Homo sapiens: one gene and its partner. The protein of the gene in region 1 interacts with the protein of each later gene in a biochemical or structural test. Each region holds a gene or a part of one and is shown in the gene's direction. Other genes may lie near its edges.

What was found. The genes of interacting proteins can lie anywhere in the genome.
Region 2: the proteins of USP6 (region 1) and MYL2 form a complex in vitro, tested with the Homo sapiens proteins (one study listed by BioGRID and IntAct).

Annotation. Positions count from the first base shown.
Region 1 is NC_000017.11:5,133,031-5,140,052, forward strand, and holds part of USP6 (ubiquitin carboxyl-terminal hydrolase 6), read left to right. Parts: intron 1-412; coding exon 413-520; intron 521-856; coding exon 857-966; intron 967-2,203; coding exon 2,204-2,252; intron 2,253-2,777; coding exon 2,778-2,898; intron 2,899-3,609; coding exon 3,610-3,704; intron 3,705-4,090; coding exon 4,091-4,156; intron 4,157-4,620; coding exon 4,621-4,720; intron 4,721-5,090; coding exon 5,091-5,243; intron 5,244-6,224; coding exon 6,225-6,644; intron 6,645-7,022. UniProt on the Homo sapiens protein: Deubiquitinase with an ATP-independent isopeptidase activity, cleaving at the C-terminus of the ubiquitin moiety. Catalyzes its own deubiquitination. In vitro, isoform 2, but not isoform 3, shows deubiquitinating activity.
Region 2 is NC_000012.12:110,917,569-110,924,912, reverse strand, and holds the start of MYL2 (myosin regulatory light chain 2, ventricular/cardiac muscle isoform), read left to right. Parts: upstream 1-4,333; 5' UTR 4,334-4,383; coding exon 4,384-4,386; intron 4,387-5,719; coding exon 5,720-5,809; intron 5,810-7,344. UniProt on the Homo sapiens protein: Contractile protein that plays a role in heart development and function.

The DNA of each region.
Region 1 (7,022 bases):
AGAAACAGGGGACAGGCACCCATGGCTGTGGCCTGGCACCGTCAGCCTCTCAGAGGGCGGGTGGCACACTGTCCTCGCCCAGAGGACTGCAGGCCTGGTCACCAGATTGCCTGCCTATTCGTGCAAGTGTCACCTTGCTGGGAGGGAATCTGAATCTAGGGCTGGGACCACCCAGAGCTCAAGGCTAGGGATGCCCTGGTGACCCGAAGGAAGGAAAAGGTTCGGATCAGAGTTTAGACTCTGAGTGTCCATCCACTCTTTCAGTCCTGGGAAGGGAGACCCTGTCCCAGCTTGATCTCGCCTCTACTGAGGAATCATGGGGCCAAAACTGACAATTTCCAGAATCCCCAGGCTCTGGTCCTCACTGGGGTCACCCCATGGCCTGTGACACCAGATTCTTTTCTGCCCACAGCTCATAGATCGAGTGTACAAGGGAATTCCCATGAACATCCGGGGCCCGGTGTGGTCAGTCCTCCTGAACATTCAGGAAATCAAGTTGAAAAACCCCGGAAGATACCAGGTATGCTCAGCCAGAGCACAACAAACAGGACAGGCCGTGTCAGGGGCCCAGGTCTCCAGCTGGAGGGAACGTCAAGCCCACCCTGGGGTGGGGGGGTGGGAGGGGATGGTTAGATGCACATCCTGGGCATGGACGGTGACACAGTCACCACAGACAAACTCGGCTGTGGTGACCCTCCCTGGCCTCAGTAGCAAGCCAAAAAGCAGCTTTCTGCAGAAGGAAACCTTCCTTCTTTCCTTCCTTCCCGAAGTGCTGACTGTGGGCTGACTGCCATTTGGGGCAGGGAGTCTTCCATCTGTTCTGAGGCTGCTTCCTCCTCTTGGCCCTGCCCTACAGATCATGAAGGAGAGGGGCAAGAGGTCATCTGAACACATCCACCACATCGACCTGGACGTGAGGACGACTCTCCGGAACCATGTCTTCTTTAGGGATCGATATGGAGCCAAGTAAGCCTACGGGAGCCACACAGTCCCAGCAGAGATGGGGTGAACGAGAGGGATGGGGACTTCCCCGGAGCAGAAGCCAGGGTCACCCAGGAGGGATGACAGAGCTGCCAAGAGCTCTCCTGGCCCAGGGAGCAGCCGGCACCATGAACCGAGCACCTCCCTGGTTCCAAGCCCTGGGCCAGGCTGGAACATGTGGGGCCAGAACCCAGGAGGATCCTGAGGAGACAGAAAACAGCAAAGAAAATCACACGCAATGGTGAAAGGTGCTCTCCCTGACCCACGGAGACCCATGGTAGGACCCACAGGAGGGTGGCAGGATGGAGGGCCCATGAGCCTCCCCAGGCAACACAGCACCAAATGCTGGGAGAATTAGGGGTCCTGGAAACTGTCATCCAGGTCTGCTGGGAACATGACATGGCACAGCCACATTGGCAGCCAGTTGGGCAGTGGCTCACAAAGCTCAGTGGACTTGAACCACACATCCCCATGGTGTCACAGATATTGAACCCACTGATTTGAAAACTGACATCCACATGAAACCTGCATGCCAGGTTCACTGCTTGATTCCTCATCACTCACACATGGAGCCTTCGGGGATGGCCTTCAACACGGGAATGGGGAGAGACAGGCTGGTCCTCCCTTCAAACGGAAGACCCAGTGAGAAAAGGGAACGAGCCAGTGATGCCTGCACGAACGTGGGTGGATCCTAGATGCATTTTGCTAAGGGAAAGAAGCCAGACCCAATAAGCTACCATAGTAGGATTCCCATTCCTAGGCCATTCTGGAAAAGGCCAAACCATAGGGACTGAGCAGCAGTCTGGGTGGCCAGGGGCTGACGGATCGGGGAGAGGCTGGGTGCATAGGGGAAACCCTGGAGATTTGGAAGATGATGGAGTCGCTCCAGGAGGGGCTGGAGCGGTGGCCGGGAGACTGCACATTGGTTTGGAACCATGGAGGAACTGTGCACCCAAAGACTGAACTGGTGTGTGTGCAAAAGAAAAAAAAAATCATTCAGCGTGAAAAGGATCGGTCAACTCACTGTAGAACTGGGCTATTTGCATGTCACAGATGTGGATTTTACTGAAACATTTCTTCAACAGTCTCAGGCCCTGAAGAGCTCACTGCTTATCTGGTGAATCATCTGAACCTGAAATGGGATTTGTTAGGATTTGTAGACAAAGTGAAACTAACAGCATCTGCACAAACCAAACCATAGCCCCCTTTCTGTGTTTCCTAGGCAGAGGGAACTATTCTACATCCTCCTGGCCTATTCGGAGTATAACCCGGTGAGTATTCCCGGCAGTGAGGTTCCCAGGCTGTATTTCCATATTCACAGGAGTGGGTGTCTGGTGGGGGTGTCGTTGCTTCTTTTAAAGTTGGTATTTGTGACTCACCAGGATATAGGAGGTAGGATTCTAGGTCACCGCTGGCATAAACCTCCAAGCAAGGGGGTGGTCTCAAGGGGTCAAGCTGAGACACAAAGGACTTGGGGCCTGGACTCCTGGTGTCACCTGGGCCTGACCACCACTTCTCAGAACAAGAAATGACGCCCTCCTCCTGGGGCTGCTCCAAAGCAAAGGAGCTTGGCAGTGTCACACGCAGGACGGTGCTCTCAGGAGACATTTTGGACAAGGTGCTGAAGTGCCTGATGGACTTTGCTCTTGTCATGAAATGAATTTGCATCCTGAGGAAGCCTCTTCTTCAGAGGAAGCCTCCCCAGTCACCTCTGCCCTCTCCAATGACATGAGTCCTCCCAGGTGACCTCAGCCCTCCCAGGTGATGTCCTTCCATGGTGACTCTGGCTCTTGCAGGAGGTGGGCTACTGCAGGGACCTGAGCCACATCACCGCCTTGTTCCTCCTTTATCTGCCTGAGGAGGACGCATTCTGGGCACTGGTGCAGCTGCTGGCCAGTGAGAGGCACTCCCTGCCAGGTAGGTGAACAGCTGCCCGTGGGGCCTCACGCAGCCAGACCCGGGAAAGCCACTGTGGCCAGGTGATCTCGGCTTTCAGCCAAGGCACACTCCTTGTGTTGCCAGCTTGTTGGGAGCATTTAGGACGTCTCTGCTGAGGGTCCCACAGGAGTCCGCAGCTGACCCCCACAACCCAAGTCAGATGCCTTTCATCCCCATCAGCAGAGGGCATCTCATCCTCCCCATGGCCACCCTCTGTGTCCTGGAGCCACATCCTCCGGCTCTGATTCTGTTCAGCTGACTCTCCCCTCCCTGAGGGTCCTCCTGCCCTCCAGCTGCCTGGGCTCCTGCTGCCCTTGGTGCCCACAAATGGGCTGACCAAGCCCAGGTGGCAGCATCTCACCATCCCGTGTCCCCTGGCCCGACCCCACTTCCAGGAGATGACCAGGAAGCTCAGCACCCACCCTGTTCTGGCCGCTCTGTTGTGGCCTCAAAGTCAGGCTTGCCCTTTTGCACCCTGGCCCAGGAGGCTTCCAGGGGAACCTCCAGCCAGGCTCCAGGGGATGTTCCTGTCCCACCTCCCCAGGGCAAAGGCCGCATGGTAGGGTCACCAGATGGGAGGGCGGGAGGCCTTGGGGTTTGGGGGCCTCTGCAGCTGCCCAGCTCTTTCAGCTGATGGCTCCACACCTTGGGGGAAGGCTCTGATTTCATGATGGGCTGGGGGCTTCTCAGGATTCCACAGCCCAAATGGTGGGACAGTCCAGGGGCTCCAAGACCAACAGGAGCATGTGGTACCCAAGTCACAACCCAAGACCATGTGGCATCAGGTGAGTTTATGGTCCCCTCGGCTCTTCTCAGAGGCCCTGCCTCCTGTGGGGCTGTAGGAGCAGGGGGACTGGAGTCCCTTGTGGGACTGGTGACTGGCGGAGTCCCAGCTAGGGCCTGACCTGGGACGTCGGGTTCTCCATGGGCTGGGAGTTGGTTTCCTTTCATGCCCTGGAGGAGACAGAGGCACAGGGATGGGGGCCCAGCTCCTGCAGAGCAGGGCAAAGGGCAGTGTGTCCACCGGGAGTGTGGGAAGGGGACAGTGTTGTGGGGAGTTCTGGACACCGCCCAGTGTTCTGCACTAGGGGAAAGGTCTTCAGAGGCCCTGGAAGATGGAGGTTTTTAGGGCAGCCCAGGGGGCCCTGAGCACCTCTGTTCATCCCATCAGGACAAGGAAGGTCTATGCGGGCAGTGTGCCTCGTTAGGCTGCCTTCTCCGGAACCTGATTGACGGGGTAAGGAGGCATAGGGAGACCCTGGCTCAGGGACCCTCCTTGCCCTGCAGTGCCGTGCTTCCCCAGCCCGGGGGTCTGGCTCACTCCCAGCCCACAGGAGGCTCAGGCGGGTCCCCGAAGGACACACAAGCAAAACCCTCTGCCCAAGAGGGGTCATCCCAGGGCAATGGCTGGGACTCAGGTCCAGCCTCATGGGCAGACTGGGTCAGGACCCAACTTGAGAGGGCTCAGGGAAGCCTCAAGCCCTGGGCAAGCCCCTCTCTCCAGGAGCCACATACCCACTCAAATGAGTACCCCCCCATGAGAAGTTGCAAGACCTTTTCTGACTCAGCATTCTGGAGGGCTCAGGTGACCCTCATGGGGAAGGTCACTGACTCTGGAGACTGAAGCCCCAGTGTGCGCAGCTCGAGCCACCAGCCCCAGCCTGGAAGGGCCAGGTTCTCTCATACCTGCTGTCCCCACAGATCTCTCTCGGGCTCACCCTGCGCCTGTGGGACGTGTATTTGGTGGAAGGAGAACAGGTGTTGATGCCAATAACCAGCATTGCTCTTAAGGTTCAGCAGAGTAAGTCTACGTGTGCCCAGTGGGGCCTGGGGAGCCCTGCAGTCAGACCCCGACTGGCCCAAGGGCAGCTTCCTCACACTGTCCTCATGATCCTCTGTTCTGGCCCAGAGGGAGGTCTGGCCAGGTGGGCTGGGCAGGGCACTGTGACACCGAGCCCATCCCCCACATGACCCAGATGAAAGTCGAGAGTGTGGTGAGCACTTCCCTGTCCAGATCACCCCCCAGCCACAGTCTCCTGTGTACATCTGGATGCCTGGGGTGGCCACAAAAGGATTCGGCACCGCCCAGTGGGAGACTGAAGTGGCCACAGGGTATGAGCTGTGACCATTCCCAGGGAACTCTCCTGGCCTGATATCCACCCTGTCCCTAGAGCGCCTCATGAAGACATCCAGGTGTGGCCTGTGGGCACGTCTGCGGAACCAATTCTTCGATACCTGGGCCATGAACGATGACACCGTGCTCAAGCATCTTAGGGCCTCTACGAAGAAACTAACAAGGAAGCAAGGGGACCTGCCACCCCCAGGTGGGCTCCAGTGCCATGTCCCCTCCCATGTCAGCCTCTGGGGCAGTCAATAGTGGGCGGGTGCCCCGGACCAGCAACCCTACTACCTGGGCCTTCCTCTTCACCTTTTCTTCCTCCTCTTCCTCCTGGACTCTAAGAAAGTACAGGAGGCCCACCGGTCCTCAGGGCAGGCACTCAGTGCGTGTATACTGGATGTGTTGTGCACGCAGGAGAGGGATGTGGGCAAGACCCTCCAACAAGCCCCCTCCCACTTTCCACGGTGTCTCGCTCTCTCCCTCACAGGGCCCTCAAAGTTACTAGATGAGCCAGACCCATTTGTGGGAGACCCCGCCCCTCCCTGCAAGCACCCACAGCCTCAGAGAGCAGCAGAGGCCCCTCACTCCTGCACGCTCCTCCAAGGTTGCCAGGACAACAAGCCTTGAGCAAGGGAGACAAGGGAATCGGGTGTCCCTGACCCACAGGGCATTCAGGGAGAGGGCACAGGCGGGACCCCGGGCCCAGAGCCAGAGCCAAGAATTCAGCCAGATGTGGGAACGGTCAGTCCTGGCATGGACTGGGCAGCCCAGGGGGGCAGAGGGTGACCCACGTCCGGGCCCAGTCACCCACTGCGGAGACAGGTCCCCATGTGAGGTGGCAAGGAGCTGGGTGACATCCAAGGCCCCTCCCACTTGAGTTCTGATGGGGGGCCATATCCCAGGCCCAACAGCCCTGGGACGAAGGTGTGTGGCAGGAAGCCCCCAGCCAGTCTGAACCCTGGGGGCAGTCCCAGGAGCCACCCACCATGCCCCAACGGCTTCCCCATGCCAGGCAGCACACACCCCTCCCTCTGGGATCAGCAGACTACAGGCGTGTCGTCAGTGTCAGACCACAGGGGCCACACAGAGACCCCAAGGACTCCAGAGATGCAGGCAGGTGGGGCCCAGCCCGGAAAGGCCTGCATGGGCTCACTGGAGATGCTGACCACGTCTGTTTTCCTTTCAGCCAAACGCGAGCAAGGGTCCTTGGCACCCAGGCCTGTGCCGGCTTCACGTGGTGGGAAGACCCTCTGCAAGGGGTATAGGCAGGCCCCTCCAGGCCCACCAGCCCAGTTCCAGCGGCCCATTTGCTCAGCTTCCCCGCCATGGGCATCTCGTTTTTCCACGCCCTGTCCTGGTGGGGCTGTCCGGGAAGACACGTACCCTGTGGGCACTCAGGGTGTGCCCAGCCTGGCCCTGGCTCAGGGAGGACCTCAGGGTTCCTGGAGATTCCTGGAGTGGAAGTCAATGCCCCGGCTCCCAACGGACCTGGATATAGGGGGCCCTTGGTTCCCCCATTATGATTTTGAATGGAGCTGCTGGGTCCGTGCCATATCCCAGGAGGACCAGCTGGCCACCTGCTGGCAGGCTGAACACTGCGGAGAGGGTGAGGTTGGCTTTCACTGCACTGAGCCACAATGTGGGCATGGACTTCCCGGCCCTGCAGTGCACCCAGCACTGATTCCGACCGGGATACCTCCTTTGCAGCTAGGGACGAGCAGCAGTGCGCTCCCACTTCAGGGCCTTGCCTCTGCCACCTCTACTTGGAAAGTTCTCAGTTCCCTCCAGGCTTCTAGAAGCATCTGGGCCAGGGCTCATGGCTGGATAATTTCCCGAGGCTTAACAATCCAAGCAGGCTTCGCATCCTTGTTTTATTTTTTGTTAAACTTATGAAAATTTATTAAGAAAGCGTGCAGCTTGAAAGACATGCACAGATGGAACACACCAGCCCCCAGATCACAAAGCCAACCATGCCCAGCCCCAT
Region 2 (7,344 bases), on another chromosome or scaffold:
CAAGGAATGTGGGGACCTCGTGGTCCACAAGGAGTGTCGGTGCCTCATTCCCTGCTTCGTGGTCCTCATCACTCCAACCTCTGAATCCTCCGAGGTAGAAAAGGCAAAAATCGGGTTCTCCCCAGGAGGCTTCAGAAGGAACACAGTCCTATTTGTGACTACAAGATAATAAATACGTTGCCAGGTGTGGTGGCTTGAGCCTGTAATCCCAGCATCTTGGCAGGCTGAGGCAGGAGGATGGCTTGAGCTCAGGAGTTCAAGACCAGCCTGGGCAACATAATGTGACCCCGTCTCTACTAAAAAAATTGTTTTAATTAGCCGAGCGTGATGGTGCGTGACTATAGTCCCAGCTACTTGGGAGGCCAAAAGAGGAGGATCACTTGAGCCTAGGAGTTCGAAGCTGCAGTGAGCTATGATTGTGTCATTGCACTCCAGTCTGGGCAACAGGGTGAGACCCTGTCTCAAAAGAAAAAGAAGTGCTGTTTTAAGCCACCACATCGGTAATATTTTTATAGCAGCAATAAGAAACAAATACACTTGGGTTTCTGATATTCTAGAAGTTGCTATTCTGATGGATCGGCCCACTGTGCTTCTCTCTGGCTTCTGACAGCCTCAAGTGAGCAGTTATTTTTCTCTTCTATTCAGTGGGACTCAGGTCTAGCTGCTGGAAACTTATTAGCTGTAGGAATCCCACAGGTAGCAAAAAGGCAGGGGTCTCAGGTCCTGTGGGCATGTGCTTCTCAGCAAGAGGCCTCCGCCACCCAGCCTTGAGGGCAGGGCACAACAGCCCCAGCCGCCCACTCGCTCCCTCCCCAGCCCCCGCAGTCTTGAGGCTGATGCTGAAAGGAACCCCTGAAGTCTACAAAGAACCAAGTCCTCCCTGGATTCTCCAATCCCAGGGCCTTGTCCCTGGTCTTGGGGGCTCCCTGGGGCAACACAACCCATTGATGAGAGAGACTTTGGATCTCTGGCTCTCTCAACAGACCCCAAGGCCTAGTCCACACCCCACGTGCTCCACGTCCCAGCAGCCACGTGGTTCCATGCCCCATTCAGGCCGCCATTTCCCAGAATCCCTAGACACAATCTCACTTAATCCTCCCAGCAGCCTTATGGAGGTGTGTGATCTCCCTTTTCCAGGTGAGGAAACAGGCCCGAGAGGGTGAGTGCCCTATTTGACAACCCCTCTTGCTATCCAGCCAGAATGGTTCCTCTAGTACCCCTTCTGGAGGCCTGGCTGTACAGGTGTCCCTCAGGGACACACACCCCCACTCGACTCTGGGGGCCCAGCCCATCCTAATCCCCACCCCGGGGCTTCCCACCCCCCATCATACACTCTCCACATCTTCTGTGGCTGCAACAACCTTTTCACTTGGCCAGTTGGAGCTACTGACTGCTCACACAGGGTTTTAACGAAAATCTATGGTGTGCCTATTAGCTAGGGAAACATTTATTCTGGTGTTGTCAGAGAACCTTGGACAGAAAAGCTCCTCTTGATGTGTGCACTGCACATATGTGGATGCGTGTACATGCACGTGTCTGTGTGCCTCTATGCATGTGCAGACGTGTTTTTGTCTGTGCATGCATGTGCCTACACACACACATGAACACATCTTTTGTTATTAAAGATCTGTCAGAAGAGTGTCCTGGGTAACTCTAACCCATGTGGGACTGCAGAGAAGAAAAAAACCCACACCTTTTTTTGTCACAGCCATCAATGGTCCTTGGGTTTGTGTGCCCCCAAATTGAGATTATTTTTCCACCTGAGAAGGGGAGTGAGTGATAGCTACCATTTGCCAGGTCTCACCTCCTTTTACCCTCTGGAAAACCTAATAAGAAAAGTGATTTCTTTTTTTAAGCTCTGGAAAACTCCAGCCCCAGGGGGCCTTCTGTTCCTCAAAGCCTCCAAATTCTCCCTGCCTTGAGGTATGTGCTGTCCCCACTGCCTGGAGCCCCCTTTGCAGACTCTGCTTGGAGGAGCCCACCTGCGCCCCTGTCTGAGGCTGTCACCTGGCCACTGCCATGCCTCTGTCTCATCCCTGCATGAGATCCGTCACTGCCTGCAACTGTCTGGGTTGTGCATTTGTTTACTTTCTCCTTGTCCATCTTCCCCTCGCACTTACGCACCTCAAGGGAAGGGAATTTGTTGCTTTGCGCTGGGCTCGATGAAGGGGAATGAATGCTGGTTCAGCCATCAGCCCCGCACCCACACTACTGGGAGGGCAGAGGGACATTCTCCTTCTTAGAGGTGTGGCCTCTGGCACTCAGGCCTGCCACCCACGGACACTAAATAACCACAATGATTCCAAGCCCCGAGTTCTTGCTCCCTGAATCCCAAGGCTGTCTTTAAGGGCACAGGAAGATGGCCATCTTTTGTTGTTTTGGTTTAGTTTGGGGTTTTTTTGGTCTTTGTTTTTGAGATGGAGTCTTGCTCTGTCGCCCAGGCTGGAGTGCAATGGCACGATCTCGGCTCACTGCAACCTCCGCCTCCTGGGTTCAAGCAATCCTCCTGCCTTAGCCTCCCAAGTAGCTGGGAGTACAGGCATGTGCCACAACGCCCAGCTAATTTTTGTATTTTTAGTAGAGATGGGGTTCTGTCATGTTGGCCAGACTGGTCTTGAACTCCTGACCTCAGGTGATCTACCCGCCTCGGCCTCCCAAAGTGCTAGGTGTGAGCCAACATGCCCGTCCTTTTTTTTTTTTTTTTTTTTTTTGAGTCAGAGTCTCACTCTGTCGCCCAGGCTGGAGTGCAATGGCGCTATCTCGGCTCACTGCAACCTCTGCCTCTCGGCCTCAAGCGATTCTCCTGCCTCAGTCTCCTGAGTAGCTGGGACTACAGGCCCGCGCCACAACGCCTGGCTAATTTTTGTATTTTTAGTAGCGACAAGTTTCATCATGTTGGCCAAGGTCGTCTTGAACTCCTGACTCAAGTGATCCACCCGCCTCAGCCTCTCAAAGTGCTGGCATTTCAGGTATAAGCCACTGCACCCAGCAGGAAAGCTGTCTTCAGTAAAAGTATTATATAATGACACCTTGCATTCTGAGAGCAGCTGCTGTTTTCAAGGCTCTTAAAGAGCCTGGACTCTGGAGACAAAGGGGCCTCCAGAGGGGTCCACGCCTAGCTCCATCACTGTGTGACCCTGGGCAGCTCACTTCGCCTCTCTGAGCTTTTGTTTCCGCATCTGTAAAATGGGGGCATGGATGATGAGGTGGTCCCCACCCTCTAGGGTGGCTGGAAAATTATGTGTGGGAGCCATGAGCACATAGTGTCCGGCACGTGCCAGTGCTCAGTCAATGAGATTTGTCATTTCTTCAGTCAACAAATATTTATTTTTGAGCTGCTGCTGTGTGCATCATGAGCTGGGAGCTGGGGAGACAGTCAGTGGTGAGGGAAACTAAAGTGATCCCTGCCCTCTGAGCTGACGCTCCACAGATGCTGAAGAAAATGAGTCAGTGCACTGTGGGCAGTGTTCGGGACTGCCTCACGCTGTGCAGAGAAACAAAGAAGGGAGATCGGAGCGCAGGAGGTGCGTGGCTGTGTTATTTGTTTGTTTTGAGACAGGGTCTTGCTCTGTCACCCAGGCTGGAGTGCAGTGGTGTGATCGTGGCTCACCACAGCCTCAACCTCCCGGGCCCAAGTGATCCTCCTGTCCCAGCCTCCTGAATAGCTGAGACTATAGGCATGCACCACCACGCACAGCTATTTTTTTTTCTTTTGCGTAGAGACAGGCATCTCCCTATGTCACCCAGGCTGGTCGCAAACTCCTAGGCTCAAGCAATCTTCCCGCCTCGGCCTCCCGCCGTGCTGGGATTTCAGGCATGAGCCACAGTGCCAGCCTTCATGGTTATTTTAAAGATGGTGGTCGGGGAGGCTTCACTCAGGAGATGACATATGAGCAAAGATGCAGTGAAGGAGGTGAAGGAAGGAGCCGTGCGATGACTGACAGAAAGACATTCCAGGTAGAGGGCACACAGGTGCAAAGACCCTGAGGCCAGATCCAGGCTGATAAAACAGAGCATTTTAGCAGTCTCCTCTCCCTGCCATTTTTTTTCTCAAAATTGACAAGCACAAGTGTCCCCGGCCCAAGCACCGCAGAGAGCGCGCAGCATCTCTCCCCGTGACCATGACCCAGCTACTGCCTCTTTAACCTTGAATGCCTTTTTGGGGGCTCACGTGTCACCCAGTGGCGAGTGAGCCACCCTTACTTCAGAAGAACGGCATGGGGTGGGGGGGCCTTAGGTGGTGCCCGCCTCACCTATGACTGCCAAAAGCGGTCATGGGGTTATTTTTAAACATGGGGAGGAAGTATTTATTGTTCCTGGGCTGCAGAGAGCTGGGCGGAGTGTGGAATTCTTCTCGGGAGGCAGTGCTGGGTCCTTTCCACCATGGTGAGTACAAGGGCTCCAGGAGGTGATGATGCCGGGTGGGCGAGGAGAGGAAGCCACTACAAGCGAGGGACCACGGCGGAGGGGGAGGAAGGCGGCCCTCAAAGCCTCCAGCCCCTTGTGGAAAAAGCCCCATTGACTGCGCGGGCACAGAGGAACCCCAATCAATGCCCCGATAGGCCACAAATAACAGCAGCTCTCGGGGACTCACAAACACAAAATAAGAGAGTTGGCTTTTTTATGGCTTGTCTACTGACCTCTCGAGGAATCAATAACTCCCAGGACTTGCAAAATGGGATTGAATGCTTTTAAGGATCAAATTGTAATTCTTTTCTCTTGTTCAGGCAGCTGGGAAAAAGAATGTTTTTGTTTTCACCTTTTGAACTTGCAAATTTAAAACCTTTCTTTCTGTGCTGTTGGGTTAGGTGTCCCCCTCCTGAAGTGGGCAGTCCCCAAATCAGGGTCAGCACAGGAGGGAGAGTGGTTAGAGGCAGGAACTCTGGAGTCAGAATGCCCAAGTTCAACTCCCCAAGTTCAACGCCCAAGTTCAACTCCGGCTCTGCCTTCTGTGTGTGTGGCTGTGTGATCTTGGGCAAGTGACCCAACCTCTCTGAGCCTCAGTTGCCTCTCCTGTAAAATGGGGATGATAATAATAGTATCCACTTGACAGAGTGGTTATGAGAATTAAATAATACATATGTAGAGTACCGAATCATTTGCTGTTATTGAAAGTCAGAGAGAAGTGGGGTGGGGAAGAAAGGTCAACTCGCTCTTCTCTGCCCTATTGATGTGGTGCAAGGACGGAGCATTCAGAGAGGAGGTTTTGCTGCCATTTGGAGCAAGGGAAAATTGTGGGGTGTGGGGCGCAGTTGGGTTTTAACACCTTGAAGAACTGTCATTTCATCTTGGCATTCATCATGGCTTAGTGAGCCTGACTTTTTCTTTCCCTCCAATCAATTCTCCTTCTGTGCATTACTGAGCTTTTTGTGAAATGCATCAGAACAAAAGTGGCTGGATCCTGCAGGGGCGATCTGAAGGTGTGGCCTCCATCCCCAGGGACACACCTGTGGCTTCTCCTAGTTGGTGAAGGAGCCACTGCAAGATGCACAAACGCTTATGATCCACTGGTACCAGAGGGCTCTGGAGAAACTTCATGTCATGTCCTTTGCTCCCTCCAGCATCACCGTTTGGAGACCTGAGTGTGGATGCTGTACCCACATTTCACAGATGGGCAGCTGAGCCCTGCAACAGAGATGAACACACCCAGAGTAGGGGCCTGACCTAGTTTTTTGACTCCCAGCCTCTCACTCTTTTAATCGATGCTTTTTTCCCCCAGGCACCTAAGAAAGCAAAGAAGAGAGCCGGGGGCGCCAACTCCAACGTGTTCTCCATGTTCGAACAGACCCAAATCCAGGAATTTAAGGAGGTGGGTGCAGCTATTGAATCATCCGCCTGGATGGAAATCCCACCCACGAGGGAGAACCTTCTTTTTGTTCCATATTCCCAGCAGGGACCTTTCATTAGATGCCTCTATCCTCCAAACAATCCCAAATTCGGCCTGAACGGATGTGTGAATTTTTAAAAGAAACTATTTTTAATATTTTCACTGATTATCAAAGTAAAACATATTCCATGTTGAAAAATGTTGGAAAATTTTTCAGAAAAGCACAGAAAAGGAAATAAAAACTACCTACAATTCTATTACCCAGAGATAATCAGTTCACATTTTAGTATATACCCTTCAAACCATTTTTGTTATCTATGTATATATTTATTAAACAAAATTATAATCTTCTGTGCCCACTGATTACACCTGCATTTTTTTCGTTGAGAAATTCACCATTAACATTTCCTATCATGTATTTAAACCATTTCCTATGGTTAAATATGACATTTGTTTATAATGTTTTACTACTATAAATAACACCTCTTTGCTTGTATCTCTGGTTATTTCTTGGGGGTAAATTCCTAAAAGCAGAACTGCTGGGTCAAAGGAACTTAAAACAACAACAACAAAAGAACTAAAAACAGGCAGAACTGCTGGTCCGAATTGCCCCCCAAAATCACAGCACTAATTCCTATGCCCAGCAGCCTCGTGCCTTTCCCCACATTTCCATCAACGCTGGGTATTAATAGTCACAATTTTTTTTTGCCAGTCTGAGAGGTGAAAAGCAGTATCTTCTGGGTTTTACATTTTACAGTCTTTGATTATTAACCACTAGCCCCATTTGAAACCCCATCGCATTTGATGGCAATGGACCTTATGAAGAGAACCAAAGTACCAATTAGGCCAAACTGCACACGGGCTTGGATGGACAGGCTCAGAATTCATTTTCCAGCCGTTGCGAGGGCTCACACTGACTCATCCACATTCCCACCTGGCTTTCCAGAGGGAACTATGCTAAAATGATGCTAAAGAGACCAGACTGCTTTCTTTTTTTGTGCGTGTGACAGAGTCTCGCTCTGTCACCCAGGCTAGAGTGCAGTGGCACAACCACGGCTCCCTGCAGCATCAACCTCCCAGATTAATCAATCCTCCCACCTCAGCCTCCTGAGTAGCTGGGACCACAGGTACACACCACTGTGCCCAGCTAATTTTTGTGATTTTTGTAAAGATTGAGTCCCCCTGTGTTGCCCAGGCTGGTCTCAAACTCCTGGGCTCGAGCAATTCTCCTGCCTTGACCTCCCAAAGTGCTGGGATTACAGGCATGAGCCACTACACCCTGCCCTAGTGTGCTTTATATCAAAGGGGAAACCATTTGGGGCTTCCAAACAGGAAATGAACAGTCGTACCTTTTGTCCTCACTAACATTCAGATTGCAGGAATGCCGTGTCCCATAGGGAAAGAGAAATTCCTGAGGCAAGTGTCATATCTGAACTTGAGATAGTCACCTTCCAGGCAGAAAGCTACACCCGCCTCTTTTCCCAGCCTCTGGCATCAGCTGCCGGCGGTGTGGGTAA